Regions from separate parts of the Homo sapiens genome. Here all the other regions are linked to region 3. Evidence: fine-mapped QTL for protein levels in blood plasma. A gene starts in region 3. Each other region holds a variant in brackets. All regions are shown on one strand. Distances are from middle to middle.

Region 1 (8,182 bases), 9.6 kb after region 3:
ATCTGTAAAATGGGATGATCTAGTACTTACCTACCTCCCTGGGTGGCAGTGAGGATTTAAAGTGATAAAGTATACAAAGTGTGGAACCTAGTACTTGGTGGCGGGGTGGGGCGCTCTCACTTTGTTGCCCAGGCTGGTCTAGAATTCCTGGGCTCGAGCGATCCTCTCGCCTTGGCCTTTCAAAGTTCTGGGATTACAGGCATGAGTCACTGTGCCTGGCCTGATTATTAGTATTAATAGTTGTCATAGTTGCTTAACAAACAGAAAGTGCTTTTTTGAGACAGGGTCTCACTCTGTTACCCAGGCTGGAAGGCAGTGGCACGATCATGGCTCACTGCAGCCTCATCCTCCCTGGGCTCAGGTAATCCTCCCATCTCAGCCTCCCGAGTAGCTGGAACTATAGGCATGTACCACCATGCTCAGCTAACTTTTAAAATTTTTTTGTAGAGATAGAATCTCACTGTGTAGACCAAGCTGATCTCAAACTCCTGGCCTCAAGCGATCTGCCTGCCTCGGCCTCCCTAAGTGTTGGGATTACACGCGTGAACCACCACACTTGGCCAGAAAGTGCTTCCACATATTAACTCACTTACACTTCATAACATCCTACAAGATAGGTATCCTCACCCCCAGTTTACAGATAAGGAAACTGAGGCCCAGCAGTTATAAGCTCAAGTCAGTCTGGCCCCAGAGCCTATGCTTGTAACTAGGTTTCTCTCTCTGTCTCTCTCTTTTTCATTATCCCATGTAACTCTCACAGCAGTGCCTTGAGATAGCTATTATTGGCCCTGTTTTGCAGATTTGGAAACTGAGGTTCAGTACGAGGAAATAACTGGTCCAAGGAAGTAAACACGGGCTCCACTGACCACAGGAGGCCAAGCTGGATTGCTGCCCAACATGTCAACATGCACTGCTCTGGCCCCCTCCTCCCTCGCTGTGCCTCCAGCTGTGTTTTCTTTGGATCTCTGCATGGCTTGGAGAAGCTGCGTCAGCCCATCTCCTCTCCTGCCCAGTCCCCACCCCCAACGCCCACCCCAGCTACCCCTCAGGGAGTGACCCCCTTCTCCTCACTCTGCCTGAGCATATGAGCACTGCAGCTCATGCGCCTGTGTTGGTCAGCATGGGTGCACCTGGGGACATGTGACAGGGGACCCAGCTGGAATGAGAGGAGGATTATCTGAGGAGGACAAATCTCAGGCCAGGAAGACCCCGATTACATCTCTCCAGACAGGCGAAATGATCATCTGTTTCCAGAATGCAACTGGACAAAACAGTCCGCGTGAGGGCTGGACATTTACCAAATGGGTAAAAGGAATCTAAAAGGGCTGGGGCTTGCTGAGTTCAGCCAGGCCAAAGCTGTGGACTGACTTTCCGTGATTTCTAAAGCTGGGAGATCTGTTGTTTTCTTCTTTCTTTCCCATTTCCTCCTTGAAGGCCAGTCCATTTTCTGTGTGAAGAACAGGCCACTTGGTGTCTGAAGTCACCTCCAGATTAGAAACTCAAGGATTCTAAGGTTCCTTATGAGGTGTTGCTTTCCCTGGGTCCTCGGTCCTAGGGCATTGTATCCCCACACCTGGTGCCTCTCCATCAGGGCTCGGATGTCAGCCTTGGGCAGCTCACTCTCTCTCTGACTTCCCTTTTCTTTTCTTCTTCATATCCCACCCTTCTTCCCAGTTTCTATGCCTCTGTCAGTCTGCTAGCTGACTCTGACTCATGGGGACCTCTTTCTGTGGTCCTCTAAGCCTCCTAACCGTCTGTGCTTTCCTTATACTCCACGTGGGCTTTCCAGCCTCTACTTGTTTTGAGGAAGAGGTGGAGGATCCATAGCAGCTCTGTCTAGATGTTTGGATTTCATAAGCCAGTCACAACATTTCAAAGTAAGTGAAGGGAGGGGGCCCCAAAGGAAGGGATTTTTTCCTTTGATAATAAGGATAGGCCACCATCTTCAGCCTAAGCTTGTCCCTTTTCTGCAGGGCTTGCTGAAATGTTGCAAGAAGTGGTCAACATAATGCAACTCGAATTTTTCCAGGTGTCCTAATACTGCAGGAGTCCCCCGCATAACCCAGGCTTTGGTCTAACAAGATTGCCAACCCCTAGCCAGGAATCATGAGGATGTCACCGCCCTCTGGCCTTCTTCCTCTCTTCCACCCAGCTAGATCCATATTTTAGCTCCCCCCCAACCCTAGCAAGTACCAAATCCTGCTCCTTTTCCAAGCTTCCCCATCACAGGTCATGGCACCAGCTTTATGCAGTGCTCAAGTCAAAAATATAGGAGTCATCCTTGACTTCCTTTTTTTGTTATACCCCACATCAGCAAATCCCGGTGTCTCTAACTCCAAAAGACGCCTCACCTTATGCCTGTAATCAAAGCACTTTGGGAGGCTGAGGTGGGAGGATCACTTGAGCCCAGGGGTTCAAGACCAGCCTGAGCAACATAGTGAGACTTTGTCTCTACAAAAAATAATTAGCCAGGTGTGGTAGCATGCGCCAATAGTCCCAACTACTTGGGAGGCTGAGGTGGGAAGATCGCTTGAGTCCAGGAGGTCAAGGCTGCAGTGAGCTGTGATTGCGCCACTGCATTCCCGCCTGGGCAACAGAGCGAGACTCTGCCTCGAAAAAAAAAAAAGATGCCCCACATCTATACAATTCTCTCTATCAGCACCAACACCACTTCAAGCCATTTTCATTGGTTACCGGGACAACCTGCCTTATCTCCCTGTCTCACCATTTCTCCTGTAGGTCTAGCCTCTCTACATCAATCTAAGTGATATTTTTAAAAATGGGAATCATAGAATTTTTCTATCCTGCTCAACATCCTCCCCATCACACACAAAATAAAACCCAGACTCTGGCCACGACCTCTGGAAACACTGCAGGTGAACTAGCTCCTGCCTACCTTCCTCTCCAAGCCCATCTTCTACCACTGTTGGGAACACACCAAGTGCCTTCAGCCTCAGACTTTCCTTAATTCTTTTCTCCACCAGACACATCATCCCACACACATACCCATGCAGAGTTACTCAGATCCCTACTCAAATGTCACCCCCACAGAAGAGGCCCCCTCTGTGTCATTACCTGTCATTCTGTTTGTTTAATTCTTTATTGCCTGTTTCTTCCAGTAGACTGCAAGCTCCCCAGGGCGGGGACAGGAGCCTGCCACTCTTATTCATGGCCATATGTCCAGTGCCCAGCACAGGGTCTGGCACACAGAAAATGCTCAATAGATGTTTGTTGAATTCAAGATGGCCGGGCACGGTGGCTCATGCCTGTAATCTCAGCACTTTGGGAGGTCGAGGCAGACAGATCACGAGGTCAGGAGTTCGAGACCAGCCTGGCCAAAATGGTGAAACTCCGTCTCTACTAAAAATACAAAAATTAGCCGGGCGTGGTGGCACACACCTGTAGTCCCAGCTACTTGGAAGGCTGAGGCAGAAGAATCACTTGAACCTGGGAGGCAGAGGTTGCAGTGAGCTGAGATCACACCACTGCACTCCCGCCTGGGCAAGAGAGCGAAACTCCATCTCAGGAAAAAAAAAAAAAAGATGTTTGTTGAATTCAAGATGGGGTGTTATTATCATCCCTAGACCCTTCAGAAGGAGCAGCTTTTATGGTGCACTCTGTAGCCCTGATCTAATCCCCGGCTGAGCCTCTAAGCTCTATGCTTTCTGCTGGTACCACCCATTTCCTTGCATTTAGCCGGGGTTATCTGGAGCTGGTCTGCAGCCAAGAATGTCATACTTTCCTAATCTCCCCAGAGGCCTGAGAGACGCCTAAGGTCATGGGAGGTGCCCCCACAGGATCTCAGTGGGCTGAGCAGAAATCGGGACTCCTTGACCTAACCCACCCCCAGGCCCCTTCTACCTCACCTTCCAGCAGGCTCACGCCTGTAATCCCAACACTTTGGGAGGCCATGGTGGGCGAATCACCTGAGGTCAGGAGGAGTTCGAGACTAGCCTGGCCAACATGGTGAAACCCCAACTCTACCAAAAATAAAAACATTAGCTGGGTATGGTCGTGGGCACCTGTAATTCCAGCTACTCAGGAGGCTGAGGCAGGAGAATTGCTTGAACCCAGGAGACAGAGGTTGCAGTGAGCCAAGATCGCACCACTGCACTCCAGCCTGGGCGACAGAGCAGGACTCCATCTCAAAAAAAAAAAAAAGTTGAACACAAATTTACCATACAGCAATTTCGCTCCTAAGGGTCTACCCACAGAAAAGGAAAATGAATGCATTTGTACATGAATGTTGATAGTAGTGTTATTCGTAATAGCCAAAAGGTGGAAACAAT[T/C]CAACTATCAATTGGTAAACAAATAAAATATGGTATATCTGTATAATGCAACACTATTCAGCAATAAAAAAAGAATCAACTACTGATATATGCTTCAAAATGGATGAAGCTCAAAAACATAATGCAAAGTGAAAGATGCAAGCTGCAAAAGACTACATCTGTGTGATTCTATTTATATGAAATGTTCAGAAAAGGCAGCTCTATAGGGACAGAAAGCAGGCCAGTGGTTGCTGGGGGCTGATGGTGGGAACAGGAACTGACTGCAAACAAGCCCAAGAAATCTTTTAGGGTAATGGAAATGTTCTAAAACAGAACTGTGTTGACAATTGTATAACTCTATACATTTACTTAAAACAAATTTTATTTATTTATTTATTTATTCATTCATTTTTGAGACAGAGTCTCTCTCCTTCCCCCAGGCTGAAGTGCAATGGTGCAATCTCGGCTCACTGCAACCTCCGCCTCCTGAGTTCAAGCGATTCTCCTGTCTCAGCCTCCCCAGTAGCTGGGATTACAGGTGCCTACCACCACACCTGGCTAATTTTTGTATTTTTAGTAGAGACAGGGTTTCACCACGTTGGCCAGGCTGGTCTCGAACTCCTCACCTCCACCCTCCTCAGCCTCCCAAAGTGCTGGGATTACAGGCGTGAGCTACCGTGCCCGGCCTATTCATTTACTTATTATTATTATTTTTAGTAGAGACAAGGTCTTGTCTGGGTTGGTCTCTAGCTCCTGGGCTCAAGCAGTCCTCCTGCCTCAGCCTCCCAAAGTGCTGAGATTATAGGTGTAAGCCACTGTGCCCGGCCAGAATTGTATATGTATTTATTTATTTATTTATTTTTGAGACGGAATCTCTCCCAGGTTGGAGTGCAGTGGCATGATCTCAGCTCACTGCAACCTCCACCTCCCTGGTTCAACGATTCTCCTGCCTCAGCCTCCCAAGTATCTGGGATTACAGGCGCCCACCACCACGCCGAGCTAATTTTTGTATTTTTTTTTTTTTGAGACTGAGTTTTGCCGTTGTTGCCCAGGCTAGAGTGCAATGCGTGACCTCAGCTCACTGCAACCTCCGCCTCTCAGGTTCAAGGGATTCTCCTGCCTCAGCCTCCCAAGTAGCTGGGATTACAGGCATACACCACTGAGCCTGGCTAATTTTGTATTTTTAGTAGAGATGGCATTTCGCCATGTTGGTCAGGCTGGTCTTGAACTCCTGACCTCAGGCGATCCGCCTGCCGTGGCTTCCCAAAGTGCTGGGATCACAGGCGTGATAGAATTGTATACTGAAAACAAGTGAGTCTTGTAGTCTGTAAATTATACCCTAATAAAGCTGTTAAAAACATTTTCCTAGCTCGGGTTGAGATCTCTGGGTTAGATGTGTCCTGGGAACCCAGCTGGGACCCAGGCTGGGTGGGGTGTCCTCCTTTCTCTCCTTTCTAAGTCAGTTTTCTGTGATCTCAGACTTTCAGGAAGCTACCAGCTGTCGCTCTTGTTTCTTTTTTGAAGAAGTCTGGAATTCTGCAGACTCAGCTCATATGGGAGTAAACATCCTGGCTCTTGGCCACTCTGACTGAAGTGCAAAAATGAGCATCACGGCCGGGCACGGTGGCTCACGCCTGTAATCTCAGCACTTTAGAAGGCCGAGGCAGGCGGATCATGATGTCTGGACATTGATACTGTCCTTGCCAACATGATGAAACCCCATCTCTACTAAACATACAAAAATTAGCTGGGCATGGTGGCATGTGCCTGTAATTCCAGCTACTCAGGAGGCTGAGGTAGGAGAATCGCTTGAACCAGGGAGTTGGAGGTTGTAGTGAGCCGAGATCGCGCCACTGAACTCCAGCCTGGCGATAGAGCAAGACTGTCTTAAAAAAAAAAAGCGCATCACAGGGAATGGGTGGGAGAGTGGAGGGGACCACCACAGGTGGCCCACCCCTATCTTGATATGACCAAACGCCGCCTGGGATGCTGAGCACTAACCCAGAGCAAGGACTGAATTTGGACTCCAGGGTCCTGGTAGGACCTGCACCTCCCTTGCTCCCTGGCTGTGCTCAGGTTGACCAGCTCTCCAAACACACCCTCCCTTTCTATACCTCCAGGCCTTGGCACACGCTGTGCCCTCCCCTTTTCCTTGCCTACCTGGAAAATCTATTTTTCCAATAAGAATCTGTTCATTGTCATCTCCTCTGAAGCTTTCTCCTTTGTGTGCCCACCACCCCCAGCCCCTGCCATCCCTCCAGAGCCCTCATCTCCCTGTGGCAGAGGGTTCATGTATATGTCTGCCTCCCACACTGCTCTGTGGGCTCCCTAAGACAAACCGTCTGTCCGTCTTACTTATCGCTTATTCTCAAGACTCTAGGACAGGCCAAGGGAAGAAATGGAGGGAATAGTACACCACATCAGACGCTTCCAAGGCCAGGAAGACCAAGGGAGACGCCCCCATTCCTCTCATCTATTCTTGGCCTAAATGGCTTCTCTCATCTGGTCCCAGAATGGCCCAAGAGCCACTCCCTGTGGGAACCACAGTTTGGGGTGGAAGCCTCCTTTCCACAGCTTTCCGGGGGCCAGACCCACTTGCCTTGGAAACTCCCTTTGCATAATTTAAACTGCAGTGTAGGGTCCATGGCCAGCTCAAGCCCAGCCTAGGCGGGGGCAACCTGGAGTGGGATCCAGCTAGAGTCTCCCTTCCCCAGCTGCCAGGACCTCAGGGGATGAAAGTTCCCTCTCAGCAGCTTCTTGCTGCAGTGGCAGAGAACAAGGGGGTTAAGCTATGTGGCAACCTGAGCTGGTTGTTTATGTTTCTGCTTTAGTGTGGAGGCTTGGCTTTGTCCGGAGTTGAGGCAGGGGTCCTCAGAGGCCCTGGCAGCTAGTGACCAGCCAGGAGTGGTGACATAATTTTCAGGGCTAGGGCCGGACATGATGGGTCACGCCTGTAATCCCATCACTTTGGGGTGCCAAGGTGGGTGGATCACCTGAGGTTGGGAGTGTGAGACCAGACTTGCCAACATGGTGAAACCCCATCTCTACTAAAAATCTAAAAATTACCTGGACCCAGTGGCACGTGCCTGTAGTCCCAGCTACTGGGGAGGCTGAGGCAAGAGAATTGCTTGAACCTGGGAGGGGGAGGTTGCAGCGAGCCGAGATTGCACCACTGCACTCCAGCCTGGGTGACAGAGCAAGACGCTGTCTCAAAAAACAATATTCAGGGCTCAGGGCAAAATGAAAACGTGGGACTTTTGTTCCAAAATTATTAAGATTTTTAAGATGGTGACAGTAGAACATTAAACCAAACACAGACTTTTCTTTTTTATTATTATTTTTATTTTCATCTTGTTTTTATTTTTTGAGACAGGGTCTAGAGTGCAGTGGTGCAATCATGGCTCACTACAGCCTCGAACTCCTGGACTCAAGCAATCACCCCCTGCGTCAGCCTCCCAAGTAGCTAGGACTGCAGGAGCACCTACTATGCCCAGCTAATTATTACTATTATTATTTTATGTAGAGATGGGGTTCTATGTTGCACATGCTGGTCTTGAACTTTTGGCCACAAGCAATCCTCCCACTTTGGCATCCCAAAGTGCTGGGATTACAGGCATGAGCCTCCACACCCAGTAAGCATGGGCCTTTCTAAATCTATGCAGCCGGCCCTGGTGCCAGGGAGAGGAGCCCAGCTTATTCCAACCACCTCTCTCAGCCCAGACCTATTGTCTACCCAGGCTTCTTAGTTCAGAAAAGTAGCTGGAGAAATGGAAAGCCTTAGGATCTTTGCTCAACTGCTCATCCCTATATTGGGAATAAAAGACTCCAGGCTACTGACAGAGACTCGGCCACAGCAGGCAGCCCACAGGGTGCTGCCTTGGTGTTCCCACCACAGAAACCAGAGCCTGGAATAG
Region 2 (8,182 bases), 67 kb after region 3:
TCTGCTGAGGAGTCATGGTATCTTAAGGAAACAGGAGTTGTTAAATCATCTTCCACTGTAGAGAGGAGGCGGCTGAGGCTCAGAGAGGGGAAGAGACTTTTCCAAGGTCATGCAGCCAGGAGGATGGAGCTGGTATATGGAACCAGGTCTGCCTCATTCCATAGTAATCATACACTTAGGCCGGGTGCGGTAGCTCACGTCTGTAATCCCAACACTTTGGGAGGCCAAGGCGGGAGGATCACTTGAGGTCAGGAGTTCAAGACCAGTCTGACCAACCTGGTGTCTACCACAAAATACAAAAATTAGCCAGGCATGGTGGCACATTGCCTGTAATCCCAACTACTTGGGAGGCTGAGGCAGGAGAATCGCTTTAACCTGGGAGGTGGAGGTTGCAGGGAGTTGAGATAGTGCCACTGCACTCTCGCCTGGGCGATAGAGACTCCATCTCAAAAATACAAAAACAAAAACAAAAGCAAAAAAAGAAATACCTTAAATTACTCTGTGCCGGTCACCATTCTAAGTGGTTTATTTACATTCATTTATTTATCCTCACAACCACCCTATGAACCTACGAAGTGGTTGTCATTATTATCTCCATTTTACATATGAGGAAACTGAGGCACAGAACAATAAAAGAATCTACCTAAGTAAAGGATGGAGCTAGGATTGAAAACTAAGCAATCTGTTAGGCTGGGTGCTGTGGCTCATGCCTGTAATCCCAGCACTTTGCGAGACCGAGGCAGGTGGATCACCAGAGGTCGGGAGTTGGAGACCAGCTTGACCAACATGGAGAAACCCCGTCTCTGCTAAAAATACAAAATTAGCCAGGCGTGGTGGCGCATGCCTATAGTCCTGGCTACTCGGGAGGCTGAGGCAGGAGAATTGCTTGAAAACCCAGGAGGCGGAGGTTGCGGTAAGCTGAGATCGCACCATTGCACCCCAGCCTGGGCAACAAGAATGAAACTCTGTCTCAAAAAAAAAATTATTAATACTTTTAAAGACTGAGCTGTTTAAGAATTTTTGGGGGAATGTTTCTAGCAGTGACTTTTTTTGGCCTTTTTAACATAATGATAGTGTAAAGACAGGAGCCTTACAACTTAGTCAAAGCATTTCATGTGCAGTCCTTCTTCTATCTCCTTAAAATATGTATTTATTTTACATACAGACTTTTACACTAACTATTGAAAAATAAAGTAGGATCTGCTACAGTTTCCCCTGAAAATTTATAAAAAGTGTTGAGATTGTTAGAAGGCAGTTTTTAATACAGGTGCACTACCCTAAAAGACTTGTCTATTGTCAATAAAGTATTTGTGAAATTATTATTTCTGTTCAGAAATACTATTTCTTAAATCTCCTGGGAATTTGTGGCATACTAAAGCACATTCAAAGTTCTAATGTGTTTATGAGCTCATTTTCAAAATAGTAAGTTTGTCATCTTTAAAATGAACGTAACTTGCTTCCTTGATTTCTGAAATGAATTAACTGAAGATTGCTATAGTAATCTTTATTTCATCTTTCTAGAGTTGTTGGCAATTTTTTTATACAACAGTGACCATTAGAGAAGGGGGGAAGGGATTTTGGGTGTGTATTTGTAGGTACTAAGGGATTTACTAAATATAGTAGAGCACTGTCACACTTGTTCAAGTAGTTTCAAACGTAGAAAATTAAGTATCAGAGGCAGGTATAGGGAGCAATGTAGTCTTTTTTTTTTCTTCAATTTTAAAAATTTTAAATTGTGGTAGAAGCAATGTATCCTTAAGGTGAAAAACCTACCTCAGTTACATGTGGTTTGTGTTTTCTGGATTAATCTGGATTTTATAATTAGAAATAAAAATGTAAGATTTTGAATCCACTTAATAATTTCTTGAAAATAATACAAGTCAGTGTAATAGAGAAGCATTCATATATTCAACACTGTAAGACAAAACAGCAGAGACCTTGGATTTGATAATTGATCTGATATCCTGGACAGTATTCATATGTACAGTGATAGGTATGTTTCTTTGGGGTTTTTTTGTGTGCATATGTGTGTAGTTTTATCGTTCTGAGTTGGTGACCAGTAAGTTCCATGTAGTGCTGGCACTTATTTAATAACTATTCATGATTTTGTTAATAACTTGTTACAGGATTCAGGCATATATTTTCAGCATAAGAAGCCAGACACACCAGCTTGTCATTGGAGATAATATATTAAGTGAGAAAAACATTCAGGAATCAGAACTTTAACATGTTAAAGTTAGTGCTAAACATGGTCATATTGGGTCTGAACCTATCCTAATATGTAACCATAAAGCTTGACTTTTGCATTGGAACTATGCTTTCATAAATAAAGGATATCCCATGGGATTGTAATTGTAATCCCATATTATCTGTAATTGTAATTCCCATATTATCTGAGAAGTAGTGTGACACCTTTCTTTTGTTGTTACATTAAGCTGAAAACATAATACTAATAGACGACTAACAGTTTGCTTATCAGGCACATCAACTAAGGCACCTCCCCCCATGCTAAGTTTCTCCTGGATATATGGAAGTTGGTTGTTTCCCAGTTTAAAAACTTGAACTAATATTACCTAAGAAAACCTGAGCCCATATTGTTTTTATTTTACTTAGCTAGAATCTCATAGCATGTTAAAGTCATACCTTATCCCCACTAAAAATAACTATGTCTATGTGAGAGGAATATTATGTGTGGGAGCTGTATTAAATACTATTATAGGTGTTACAGAATCTTTAAATAAATGGACGTGGACCAACCTTCCATCTAGTAGTGTACGATCTATATAGTGCATGTCAGTAGCACAAAATGCAGTCTTAGTTAGCATTAGCCTGTCTAATCTGAATAGTTTACTCAAAAGTACTTCTTTGTGTTAATTATTCAGCCATTGTTTTTAGATCTAGTTAATAGGTTCTATTTAATTTGCTGCAACATTTATTGAATGGGTGAGTGAAAGAACTGATGCATATTGGGAAATATCTTACCATTTTTTAAAGATAATGTTACATTAGGAAAAGAACACTTTTAAGGAATTTATAGCAGTGATGAAATGAATTCAGTCTATATCAGATACACCAAACTGTTGATGGTATTTAAATGTGACTGCAAGTTAGTATTTCTGTATATATTATTGATTACTGGTTTGTTTTTAGATATGTAAGTCTGTCCTAATCTACGGTTCACGTATTGACAGTTGCTCTGGTAATAATAGAATGTTAGTGATGATCACTTGGTGGATGTTGATTAAGTGCCTGTGTTTTGTTTTGTTTCCTCCTCTGGATACCAAATAGGTGTATGCTACTTTTTTGGTGAACTTATTTCTTGGAAGATTTGGTTATGCTATTCAGGGTTTTTATTCTTATGTTTTTCTTCTAAACTTAAGCAGCATCCTGCTGCTACCATATTAAAGCTCAAATTTAACTTTTGTGGAAAAATCAGCTAATTCAGGTAATCCAAATATTTGTGGAAAAACATCTGGGTAATTTATTGACCACATTAGTATTGTGTAGACAGCTTTGATTATTCCCATTGCATAGGTTTTTATTGTAGAATAGTCAACTTAATATAGATTCACTTTTAATTTACATGTATAAAGTAATACTCAATAAAAATTTTTTCATTTATTTAAAAAAAAGAAAACTAAGCAATCTGGCTCTAGACTCCATACTTTTAGATTGCTGTACCATTTCTCATCATAATGCTTGACTCTTAGGTGATATTTTGTCTTCTCCTGAGTCAGGCCTGGTGGTTACTATTTTCCCATTTTACAGATGAGGAAATTGAAGCCCAGAGAGGGGATTTGACTTGCTCAAGATCACAGAAATTTTCTGGTGTAATGGAAGGGGCTGTGAGCCCAGGCCAGATCTCCTGCAGTAGATAATAATCACACTAGCAGTTTTTAATTAATTTATTTATTTTTTTGAGACAGAGCATCGCTCTGTCGCCCAGGTTGGAGTGCAGTGGCGTAAACTCGGCTCACTGCAACCTCCGCCTCCCGGGTTTAAGTGATTCTCCTGCCTCAGCCTCCCAAGTAGCTGGGATTACAGGCACGCGCCACCACGCCCAGCTAATTTTTTTGAATTTTTAGTAGAGACGGGGTTTCACCATGTTGGTCAGGCTGGTCTCGAACTCCTGACCTCGTGATCCGCCCACCTCGGCCTCCCAAAGTGCTAGGATTACAGGAGCGAGCCACTGCGCCCGGCCACTAGCAGATTGTTTGTTTGTTTGTTTGTTTGTTTTTGGCTTTTTTGTTTTTTCTTTGAGACAGGGTCTCACTCTGTTACCCAGGCTGGAATGCAGTGGTGCAAACATGGGTCGCTGCAACCACTGCCTACCAGGCTTAAACAGTCCTCCCACCACAGCCTCCCAGGCAGCTGGGACTACAGGTACGCGCCATTACACCCAGCTAAATTGTTTTGTATTTTTTGTAGAGATGGGTTTTCCCCATATTACCCCGGCTGGGTGAATGTTTACTGGGTACTTACCAAGTATCAGGGGATGCATTCAGTGTTTTGTATGCATTTTTATTTTTATTTTGAGACAGGATCTGGCTCTGTTGCCCAGGCTGGGGTGCAGTGGCAGACCCTGGCTCACTGCAACCAGTCCTCCCAAGCTCAAGTGATCCTCCTACTTCAGCCTCCTGAGCAGCTGGGACTACAGGTGCACACCACCACACCTGGCAAA[G/T]TTTTGTATATTTTTTTGGTAGAGGTGGGGTTTCACCATGTTGCCCAGGCTGGTCTTTTTCTTTTTTAAGATGGAGTCTCGTTCTGTCGCCCAGGCTGGAGTGCAGTGGTGCAGTCTCGGCTCACTGCAGCCTCCGCCTCTCAGGCTCAGGCGATTCTCCTGCCTCAGCCTTCGAGTAGCTGGGATTACAGGCACGCACCACCATGCCCGGCTAATTTGTATTTTTAGTAGAGACGGGATTTTGCGGTGTTGGCCATGCTAGTCTCCTGACCTCAGGTGATCCACCCACCTCAGCCTCCCAAAGTGCTGGGATTACAGATGTGAGCTACCTTGCCCGGCCCTATGTGCATTTTTAAACTACAGTCACAACAGCCAGAGATATTAGATGCTCTCTGCATTCCCATGTTACGGATGAGGAACCTGAGGCCCCAGAGCAGTGACTGTCTGAGGTCATGTGCTTGATCGTCAGCAGAGGTAGGATTCAAACCCTGGCTTACTGACTCCCAGTCCAGTGCTCCTCATGTTGCACCAGATGCCCCGGAAGGGCAGCGGGGTTGAGAGTAGGCAGCCAGCAGGTGGGTCCGAGGGTTCATCTCTACCTGCTTTCTTCATGTCACTGCTGTCTATGGGTTTAGCTAACCCTGTTTTTAAAAACCTATTTATAGCTTAAGACTGTACCACCACTTGGGATAATGAGTCCCTTAAGTTGACTTCCCACGGTGTAAATTAAGATTTCCTTCTATTTGTCCTAAATCTTTCTCTTTCAGTATTGGAGGGGGATGGGGTAGTGGGGAAATGCCCTAGGGCCACAACACTTGGATTTAGAAAATAGGCTGAATGGGCTGGGTGCGGTGGCTCATGCCTGTAACCCCAGCACTTTGGGAGGCCAAGGTGGGTGGATCACCTGAGGTCAGAGTTTAAGACCAGCCTGGCCAACCTGGCGAAACCTCGTCTCTACTAAAAATACAAAAATTAGCTGGGCATAATGGCGGACGCCTGTAATCCCAGCTACTCGGGAGGCTGAGGCAGGAGAATTGCTTGAACTGGGGAGACAGAGGTTGCAGTGAGCCAAGATTGTGCCACTGCACTCCAGCCTGGGCCACAGAGCAAGACTCTGTCTCAAAATAAATAAATAAATAAAATAAAAGAAAAAGAAAATAGGCTGAAGTCCAAATAGTATTTGACTGTTTGTATGTGATGGTAATTCCTGACACCAGGCAGCAGGCGACATGTATGGAAACATCTCATCTGATCATTACAAAGACATAAAGGGTAGGCAGGGCCTGGATTTTTGTCTCCTTTAATCTGTCTTGTTTCCTGTGGTATCCTCACCATTGAGCACATTTTGGAGATACAGGTAGATACTAGATAGCTATTTGTTCTATGAATGAACCAATGAACCCTCATTTTATAGACAAGGAAACAAAGACCCAGAATATCAGGGGTCTAGCCAGGAAAACAAGACTTCTACCACTACTAGATGATTCCAAAGAGGGAATTTAGGCCAGATGAAGTGGTTCACGCCTGTAATCTCAGCGCTTTGGGAGACCAGGGTGAGAGGATCACTTGAGGTCAGGGGTTTGAGACCAGCCTAGGCAACATAGTGAGACCCTTGTCTGTACAAAAACATTGTTTTTTTTTTAATTAGCTGGGCATGGTGGCATGTGCCTGTAGTCCTAGCTATTGGGGAGGTTGTGGTGGGAGGATAGCTTGAGCCCAGGAGTTTGAGTCTGCAGTGAGCTATGACTGCGCCATTGCACTCCAGCCTGAGCAACAGAGCAAGACCCTGTCTCTGCCTCTAAACACATACACACAAGACACAACACAACACACAGAGGGAACTTAATGTGGAGAATTAGCTACAAAGTTGTTTTATGGGTAGAAATAGCAACCAGGGGAAGTTGAGGCAAACCTGAGATTAGCAACTTCATGAAGCTGCTACCTCACCCAGGGCTGGAAGTATTCATATCAAGGGAGGAGGTAGCATTACTGGAGACCAGCAACTGGGGCCACCCTGAGAGAAGCTGGAATCACAGCAGGTCTGTCTAGCAGGAGCTGAACCATGAAGGAGTCATTGCAACTGCTAAAGATCCCCCCACCCCATCCTTCCCGAAGACGAGAGAAATGGAGGAGAAAGACCCTGGCTTCTCCCTTCTTTCTCTCCAGTCTCTCACCAGGACTTCCCATTGGCCAATCCTAGCCAAAAGCCAGTTGGCAAGGGAGTCCAGGAAACATGGTTTGCAGGGATTAGCCTCTGCTGCACGGAGCAGAGCAGAAGGGCAGAGAATGGATTTGAGACAAACAGAAAAATTACCTGGCCCAAATTATCCCATACCTAGGAAGGATTGCATTGTGTATGCATTGTCAGGCAGTGCCCCTCCCCCAAGTCCATGTGACCTTTTTAGTCTCTTTATCTTTCTATGTCTGCCTTAAGTATCACCTCTTCCAGGAAGCCTTCTTCCCAGCAGAGCTGGTATTTCCCTTCAGCGCGTTCCCCTAGCATGCTCTGCCTACCTCTGTCACAGAACACACACCACCGTGAGATGCTGCCAGTTACCTGCCAGGCTCCTCGATGGACGGAGCCTCCCAAAGCCAGTCCTGAGTCTGGTTTGTTTCTCTGCTGAGCAGAAAATGATTGTTGAATGAGTCAGCTGTTGGAAGGATAACATGGGGCAAGGAACTCTAGAGTCAGACCAAACTGAGGGTCCACAAGTCTCAGTCTCCTCATCTGTAAAACGGGAACTTTGAGGAGTAAAAGAGAGAATGCGTGGCAGTGCAGTTAAGCTCATAGGCTCTGGAATCAGAACATCTGCAGTCAACCCCCAGCTCCGCTTGGAGTTACTTAACTTTCTACTCCTCTGTTTCTCTCTTATAAACTAGGGATGATATTAATATTTCATATGGTATCTGTGAGGATTAAATTAAACTGTGTGGAAAACAGTGCAAGTGCTTAATAAATGTACCTAGTATTATTATGTGTGGTGCCTAGTCACATGCCTGAACGTTGCATAGGTAAGAGGATATATATCAAACAGGGAACTTTCTTTCTTTCTTTCTTTTTTTGAGATGGAGTCTTGCTCTTGTCACCCAGGTTGGAGTGCAATGGTGCGAATACAGGCGTGAGCCACCGTGCCCGGCCTTTAATTTTTAATTAAAAAAAAATAGAGATGGGGGTTTCACTATGTTACCCAAGCTGGTCTTGAACTCCTGGCCTCAAGCAGTCCTCCAGCCTTGGCCTCTCAATGTGTTGGGATTACAGGTGTGAGCCACCGCACCTGGCCAGGATCTTGTCTTTCTTGTTGACCACTGTAGCCCCATTACCAAGCATAGTCACTGAAACGTAGTAGGTGCTTAGTCAATCTTTGGGGTTGTTTTTTAGGACAGGGTCTTGGTCTGTCACCCTGGCTAGGGTACAGTGGTACAAACATGGCTCAGTGTAGCCTTGACGTCCTGAGCTCAAGCGATCCTCCCACCTCAGCCTCCCCTGCTCCCAAGTAGCTG
Region 3 (7,849 bases):
GGGCTGGGGCTTACTTGAAGGTTCCCCCGAAGGCCGCGTGCATTCTGGAGACAGAGGCCTGGCAGGAGACATTGGACACTTTCATCCGTCCAGCGGGATCCCGGGAGAGCTCCAGACCAGTGCGGATGGACACACCCTCAGCTGAGGCGTTGATGTAGCCCCCATCATAGCTGCCAGGGGGGTTAATATTCACTCCAGGTAGGAGCTCAATTGAGTCTTCAGTGCCCCCATGCATCACCATACCTCTTAATAAGGTTTCACCTCTTTCCACACATCCTACCAAACCTTCCTATCAACTCGTATGAAATGCATATGCCTGTTTCTGTTACACAGATGAAGAAACGGAAACTCAGGAAGGCTAAGGGGGCTGCCCACAGCCCCACAGCACCTCCAGCCCTCCTGACCCACTCTCCACTCCCCTGAGGGTGCTGGGTCCTTACAAGAACCAGTAGAGCAGCTGTCTCCGGAAGCGCAGCCCCAAGGAGGCATTGGTGATTTGAAGCATCAGCTCCTGCTGTGGCTGGAAATCGAGCTCGGAAGATGTCAGTTGCAGCTCTGTGACCTTCACCCTACAGGAGGCCTCAGGGTCAGATCCAGGGCCAAGAAGAGGGAACTTCCCCCAACGACAGGAAATTTGTCTGCTCCCCTTTCAAGTCCAGGCCTGGGGAAGCGGGAGTGGGTGGAATGAATTCTTCCATTGTCCCTCAAGTGCCCAACTTAGACTTGGGTGGCTCAAAGTTGAACTTGGGTGGCTGAGAGAGGAGGTCTTCCTGATCCAGGTGTTAAAAATGAGCTTCACCCCATCGCTTAAAAGTCTTGTTTGTTTGTTTGCCAGGTGCGGTGGTGGCTCATGCCTGTAATCCCAGCACTTTAGGAGGCCGAGGAGGGCGGATCACTTGAGGTCAGGAGTTCGAGACCAGTCTGGCCAACATAGTGAAACCCGTCTCTACCAAAAATACAAAACTTAGCAGACCGTGGTGGCACGCGCCTGTAGTCCTAGCTACTCGGGAGGCTGAGGCAGGAAAATCGCTTGAACTCGGGATGCGGAGGTTGCAGTGAGCCAAGATCGCGCCACTGCACTCTAGCCTGGGCAACAGAACAAGACTCCCTCTCAGAAAAAAAAAAAAAAAAAGTCTTGTTTGCTTGCACCCCCTCCCCTCCCACACCCTGGGGTTGCTACACCCGGTCTTTTAATAGAGTCCGTTCACTTTGCCTCCATCACCTAAGCTCCGTCTCACATCTCAATTCCTTATTCCCCCTCCCTCATCCTAAACCATACTTAGAGCCTTCAGTTTCTCCACCCCTCCGATTAACTCCACCCCGTGCCCGAGACTCCACTCTCATCTATTGGGAAGTTCCTTGACTCCACCTTTCTGTTGTTCTTCGACCACGCCTCACATCCACTGGTCCTGCTTCCTTCTTGGCCCCCTCTACATTTTCAAGGCCACGCCCATCTGCCTGGTCCCGCCTATGATGACTGGCTTGGCCTTTATCTTTTCGGCCCCATCCGGTTTCTTAAGTCTTGCCTCATCGATTTGGCCACGCCCCATCCCACTCAGCCTCCAGTCTCCCGAGACCCTGAGATTTCTCGGGCCCCGCCTCCACCGCCGAGGCCCCGCCCCGGATCGCGAGGCCCCGCCCCCCACTTACTCAGAGATGTTGTAGTAGAAGTGGCCTTCTTTGCCCCGCAGGTCCGGAATGGTGATAGTCTCCAGCTCTTGCTCCAGAAAGCGCAGCCCCTCCTGCTTCACTGAAGCAGCAGAGAAACCCTTACTTAGCTCCCGTGCCCACTGTTGGGGCGACCCCAACCCCGTCCGCTCCCGTCCGTCCCTGTCTGCCCCTGCGCCTTACCCAGCTCCAGCGCCTTGGAGGTGACGCGGATCTTGCAGCCTGGGAACTCTGCATGTGCGCCTGCCAGCAGCGCTAGGAAGAGGGCCCCGAAGAGGGCCATGGCGAGCGGGCCTGGGGGTGGGGTGGGGTCGCAGGAGTTATCTGAGCCGCTTAAACCCATTCCTTGGACGTCCAACCATAAGTGGGAACTAGCCTGGATCGTTACCCTCCAGATAACTCTTCGGGGAACTTGGAACCAATAATCTTGCCTCCATATGGCAGATGTGGAAACTGAGGCTCAGAGAGGCGATGCGACTTGCGTTCTGGCTCCCAGAGGATTTGGGACACGGGGGAGGGGACGTTCCCAGTTCCCTCGTGCTACCGCCGCGTGATGAGTTTGGACCTCCAGGGGACCAGCCCCCACACCCCCAACAACCTCCCCTTTCCTTTAGCGGTGGGCCCATGCAGGCTTGCACGTTGCCACGGCAACGACTGCACGCGCATTCTTGGAGGGTGGCTTGCGGTCTCCTAGGCCTCGCGCCCGGGGAGGAGAGGAGGTGGCCGACCAGACCGTGGGCTCCCGGGTCTCCCGGCTCCCTCAGGTCCTAAATCTCTCCCATTAGAGATTCTGCCTGGAGCCCCCATGTTAGCGTTCTCCTTCATCGGCTCTCCTCCCCACGCCGGCTTCAGTGCACCACGCGGCTCGGCGAGGGACTGGGAACGGGATAGGGACGCGCCCCAACTCACTCAGCGGTGGAGCTGGGGGGCGGCGCGGTCACGTGGGATGGCGGGCAGCTCAGGGGATCCGGGCGACGGGGTCTGGCGGGCAGGGTTGTTCCAGCCGCCTTTATAAAGCCGGCCTCCCCGACCCCTCCTCCTCTCTGCAGCTCTCCCCTCCTCCCTTGGGGGCTGGGAGGGGACGGGGCGGGACGCTGGCAGCCGGGAGAGTGGAAAAGGCTGCACAGAGCCCCGTGACAAGCCCGGCCGCTGTCTGGACAAGTGGGAGACCCAAGCCCAGGGAGAGGGAAGGAAATGCAGGAGCCGGCCCACTCAGCCCCAACAATCCCACTTTGCTGGGACCTTGGTTCAAATTACAATTATCCATGTCTTCCTGCATGATCTTGGGCAAGTCACTTCACTTGGGTCACTGACCCTCAGTTTCTTCCTTCAGCGAAATGTGCACGATGATAGGAACTACCTCTTGGGCCTTTATTACAACCAGGTCCAGGCACAAAGTCAAGGAATATTTTTTCTTTCCCTGCCACCCACAATCATCTCGGGACCTCCTTGCCTGGCTTTGCTATGGGCCCCCCTACCTGTCTCTGTGTCACCACCTGGGGACCTTAAGGTCCCAGAGACCTTTCCCACTTGGGAAAGCAAGACTAGACAAGTGCTGTCAGCCCAGGAACATACCACACCGGCTGAAATCAGAAGGAGGTCTGCCATTTATCGTGGCTGGTGGATTGTTTTTTCTATTTTTTTTATTTTTATTTTTTGAGACGGAGTCTCGCTCTGTCCCCCAGGCTGGAGTGCAGTGGCGCGATCTCGGCTCCCTGCAAGCCCCGCCTCCCGGGTTCACGCCATTCTCCTGCCTCAGCCTCCCCAGCAGCTGGGGCTACAGGCGCACGCTGCCACGCCCGGCTAATTTTTTTTGTATTTTTAGTAGAGACGGGGTTTCACCGTGTTAGCCAGGATGGTCTCGATCTCCTGACCTTGTGATCCGCCCGCCTCGGCCTCCCAAAGTGCTGGGATTAAAGGCATGAGCCACCGCGCCCGGTCCACTGGTGGATTTTTTAATGAACCCTTGGAGCAAGGTGCTCTGAACAGCATCCCCGCCCCCACCCCCACCCCCACCTCCATCTACTGCTTACAGGGTTCCCGGACCCTAGGACAGGGCACAGAGTGGGTGCTTGCCACCTTTTTGTTGCCAAATGGACGAAAGAAAGGGGAAGCAATAATCATGTCTGCTGAGCATGTATTTAGCACCAAACACTCATCTAGGAAGGATGACTAACTCATCCTGATTTGCCTAGGACTTTCCCCATTGTGTCTTTTTTTTCTGATATAATCCACAGATTCACAAAAATAGTTCCATTTCCTTTTTTATTTAATTAATTAATTAATTTTTTTGAGACACAGTCGTGCTCTGTCACCAGGCTGCAGTGCGGTGGTGTGATCTTGGCTCACTGCAACCTCTGCCTCCTGGGTTCAAGTGATTCTCCTGCCTCAGCCTCCCAAGTAGCTGGGACTACAGCCATGTGCCACCACACCTGGCTAATTTTTGTATTTTTAGTGGAGACAGGGTTTTGCCATTTTGGCCAGGCTGGTCTTGAACTCCTGCCCTCAAGTGATCCGCCTGCCTTAGCCTCCCAAAGTGCTGGGATTACAGGTGTGACCCACCATGCCCAGCCTATTTATTTATTTTTATTTATTTATTTAAGATGGAGTTTCTCTCTTGTTGCCCAGGCTGGAGTGCAATGGCGCAATCTCGGCTCACTGCAACCTCCGCCTACCAGGTTCAAGCAATTCTCCTACCTCAGCCTCCCAAGTAGCTGGGATTACAGGCACCCACCACTACGCTCAGCTAATTTTTTGTATTTTTAGTAGAGATATGGTTTCGCTATGTTGGCCAGGCTGGTTTCGAACGCCTGACCTCAGGCAATCCACCTGCCTTGGCCTCCCAAAGTGCTGGGATTACAGGCGTGAGCCACCGCGCCCGGCCGCCTATTTATATTTTTAGAGACAGGGTCTTGCTCTGTTGCCCAGGCTGGAGTGCAGTGGTACAATCACGGCTCACTGAAGCCTCCACCTCTTGGGCTCAAGCGATCTTCCCACCTCAGCCTCCTGAGTAGCTAGGACTACAGGCAGGTGGTACCATGTCATGTCCAGCTAAGTTTTGTATTTTTTGTAGAGACAGGTCTCACCATGTTGCCCAGGCTGATCTTGAACTCCTGGACCCAAGTGATCCTCTTGCCTTGGGCTCCCAAAGTGCTGGGATTACAGGCGTGAGCCACACATCCAGCCATCCCCATTTTGAAACCATTCCTGGGAACCCACTCAGTCCCTGGGAAACCTTACAACTGGTCATCCGAATTCTAGGTAATTTATTTAACCTTAACAACCTGTCAGACTGGCACTATTATGAACCCTCTTTAACAGGAAGTAGAGGTTGAAGCAATTCTGTGGCTGCTATTAGGGAATCCGTAGACTGTTCATGGAAGAGTGGAAGGTGGGCTTTATAGCCCGGTAGTTATGTACTTAGACTCTTGTGTCTGACAGACAAGAGTTTACACCCCAGGTTGTCAGTTCTTAGGTGTATGACATTGATCCCTTGCTTAAGCACTCAGATCTTCAATTTCCTCATCCTAAAATGGAAACAATAATTTAAGGTTATTGCAAGAATAAATGGGCCTGGTACATGACACATCATTAGTGCCAAATAAATGCTAGCTATCTTAATTAGGGGCACATACCACGAGCAAACAAAGCAGAAAAGGTGTAGAGGGAGAACAGAGAAAGTGTTAAGAGTATCCAGAGGAGGAAGTATCTGTGTTCCTTTGAACTCTAGTAACCTTCCTAGAGCCTGGCTCAAGCAGAAAACCTGGTGGATGTTAGTTTTCTTTCCTCTTATTTCCTTTCTTTTCTTTTTTTTTTTTTGTGGGGTGGAGTCTCGCTCTGTCACCCAGGCTGGAGTGCAGTGGCACGATCTCGGCTCACTGCAACCTCCACCTCCCAGGTTCAAGTGATTCTCTTGCCTCAGCCTCCCGAGTAGCTGGGACTAGAGGCGCCTGCCACCATGCCCAGCTAATTTTTGTATTTTTAGAGACAGGGTTTCACCGTGTTGGCCAGGTTGGTCTCGAACTTCTGACCTCAGGTGATCCGCCCGCCTTGGCCTCCCGAAGTGCTGGGATTACAGGCATGAGCCAGTGCACCTGGCCCTTTTTTATTTTTTTTTAACAACAACAACAAAATACATTTTATTTATTTAAGATAGGGTCTCACCATGTGCTCAGGCTGATCTCCAACTCTCGGGCTCAAGCAATCCTCCCACCTCAGCCCCCCAAGTAGCTGGGACTACAGGTGTGCACCACCATACCTGGCTGTTTTCTCTTCTTTTCTTTCTTTTTTTCCCTCTTTTTTGAGAGAGGGTCTCATTCTGTTGCCCAGACTGCTGTGCAGTGGTGCAGTTACGGCTCACTGCAGCCTCAACCTCCCCAGGCTCAGGTGATCCTCCCACCTCAGCCTCCTGAGTAGCTGAGACTACAGGTATGTGCCACCATACCCAGCTAATTTTTGTATTTTTCACAGAGATGAGGTTTCACCATGTTGCCCAGGCTGGTCTTGAACTCCTGAGCTCAAGAGATCTACCCACCTCAGCCTCCCGAAGTGCTGGTGTTACACCACATCTGGCCTTTCCTCTCGTTTTCTTTTTCTTTTTTTCTTTTTTTTTTTTTTTTTTGAGACAGAGTCTTACTCTGTCACCCAGGCTGGAGTGCAGTGGTGCTGTCTCGGCTCACTGCAACCTCCACCTCCCGGGTTCTAAGCGATTCTCCCGCCTCAGCCTCCAGAGTAGCTAGGATTACAGGCACACACCACCACAGCTGACTAATTTTGTATTTTTAGTAGAGATGGGGTTTCACCACGTTGGCCAGGCTGGTCTCGAACTCCTGAGCTACCAAAGTGCTGGGATTACAGGCGTGAGCCAGTGTGCCCAGCCTTGCTCTCATTTTCTTAGGTGAAATATTTCTCGCTATATTGCCCTTGCTGGTCTCAATCTCTTGGCCTCAAAAGATCCTCCGATCTTGGCTTCCCAAAATACTGGTATTACAGGCGTAAGCCACTGTGCCTGGCCTCACTCTTCCTGGCTTTGAAGACTGAAGGAGAGGCTTCCCAGCAATCAAAGGGATGGGAAAGAAATGCTTTTCTAGCCTCAGTTGTGTACCCAGATGAATCCAGGCTTCATCTTTGTATCATTTTTATCTCTTAAATGGTCTTGTCCCATGCAATTCACTGGCCAGTGGCCTAACCCCTCTGGATCTCAGTTTCCTCATCTGTAAGATGAGGATGATCCAGGTACCTCCCTCTTAGGATTGCTTGTGAGGATTAAATGAGTTAATGCATTGAAAGGGTTTAATAAGTACTTGGCATTTCCTAAGGGCTCAAAAAATGTTACCTACAATCATTAGCATGATCAGCCATCAGTGGCTTTTCACCATACTGGAATAGACTCCTGCCTCAGTACCCTGATTCCCTGGCATGTGATAGGGCCTACTCTCTCTGTCTCACCTCTCACCTCTCTTGCCCTTTGCATTCGGCTCCAGCCAAACTGGTTTTTCTGTTCCTTGAATGTGCAAGTTCTTCTTGCTCAGAGCCTTTGCATTTGCTGTTCCCTCTACCTGGAATGCTTTTCCACCTGATCTTCCTTGTCATTTTGTCTCAGCTTATTTTATTTATTTATTTTTTGAGACGGAGCTTCGCTCTGTCACCCAGGCTGGAGTGCAGTGGTATGATCTCGGCTCACTGTAAACTCTACCTCCAGAGTACAAGCAATTCTCCTACTTCAGTCTTCTGAGTAGCTGGGATTACAGGCGTGCACCACCACGCCCAGCTAATTTTGTATTTTTAGTAGTGATGGGGTTTCACATGTTGGCCAGGCTGGTCTCGAACTCCTGACCTCAAGTGATCTGTCCGCCTCAGCCTCCCAAAGTGCTGGGATTACAGGCTCGAGCCACCACGCCCAGCATTTTGTCTCAGTTTAAATGGCGTTTTTTCAGAGAGGCCTTCCCTGCCTGCCTATCTATTAATCGCTCTCAATCATATCAGCCTGGTTTATTTTCTTTATAGATTTTATTACTATTGAATATTTTCTTTCTTGTTTGTTGTCTGTCCCCGTGAGAGCTGGAATTTTGTTCAACACTGTGTCCTTAGTGCCTAGAACCATGCCTGGCACACAGTAGGTACTGACTAAATATTTACTGAGTGATTGAACTGGTTTGGAGTCCTTGAATGTCCCTGGGCA

Which allele goes with the higher level. Alleles are on the strand shown, and positions count from the first base shown. The strength of an association depends on the size of the effect and on how common the allele is. Not every link is listed here.
In carriers of allele T in region 2, the plasma level of the protein whose gene starts at base 2,654 in region 3 tends to be higher than with G alone (moderate association).

What was found. PIP is the chance, under the fine-mapping model, that this variant and not a neighbour inherited with it causes the effect. The UK Biobank Pharma Proteomics Project read protein levels with antibody pairs (Olink). The fine-mapping took linkage between variants from a reference panel, not from the people measured, so its PIPs are less certain.
Region 1: its variant is fine-mapped to the plasma level of the PLTP protein (UK Biobank, PIP above 0.99).
Region 2: its variant is fine-mapped to the plasma level of the PLTP protein (UK Biobank, PIP above 0.99).

What each region holds. Positions count from the first base shown.
Region 1 is chr20:45,918,927-45,927,108 of GRCh38, forward strand. No RefSeq gene overlaps it. Among named protein-coding and RNA genes, the nearest start is that of PLTP, 11 kb to the left of the region's middle. RefSeq lists a silencer at 5,644-5,938. The variant T/C (reference allele first, on the strand shown) is at 4,290.
Region 2 is chr20:45,976,275-45,984,456 of GRCh38, forward strand. No RefSeq gene overlaps it. Among named protein-coding and RNA genes, the nearest start is that of ZNF335, 8.2 kb to the left of the region's middle. The variant G/T (reference allele first, on the strand shown) is at 4,682.
Region 3 is chr20:45,909,502-45,917,350 of GRCh38, forward strand. PLTP (phospholipid transfer protein) reads right to left here and starts at 2,654. Exons shown (of 16, transcript NM_006227.4): 1 at 2,578-2,654; 2 at 1,852-1,962; 3 at 1,651-1,750; 4 at 441-569; 5 at 15-170. The coding sequence starts at 1,951.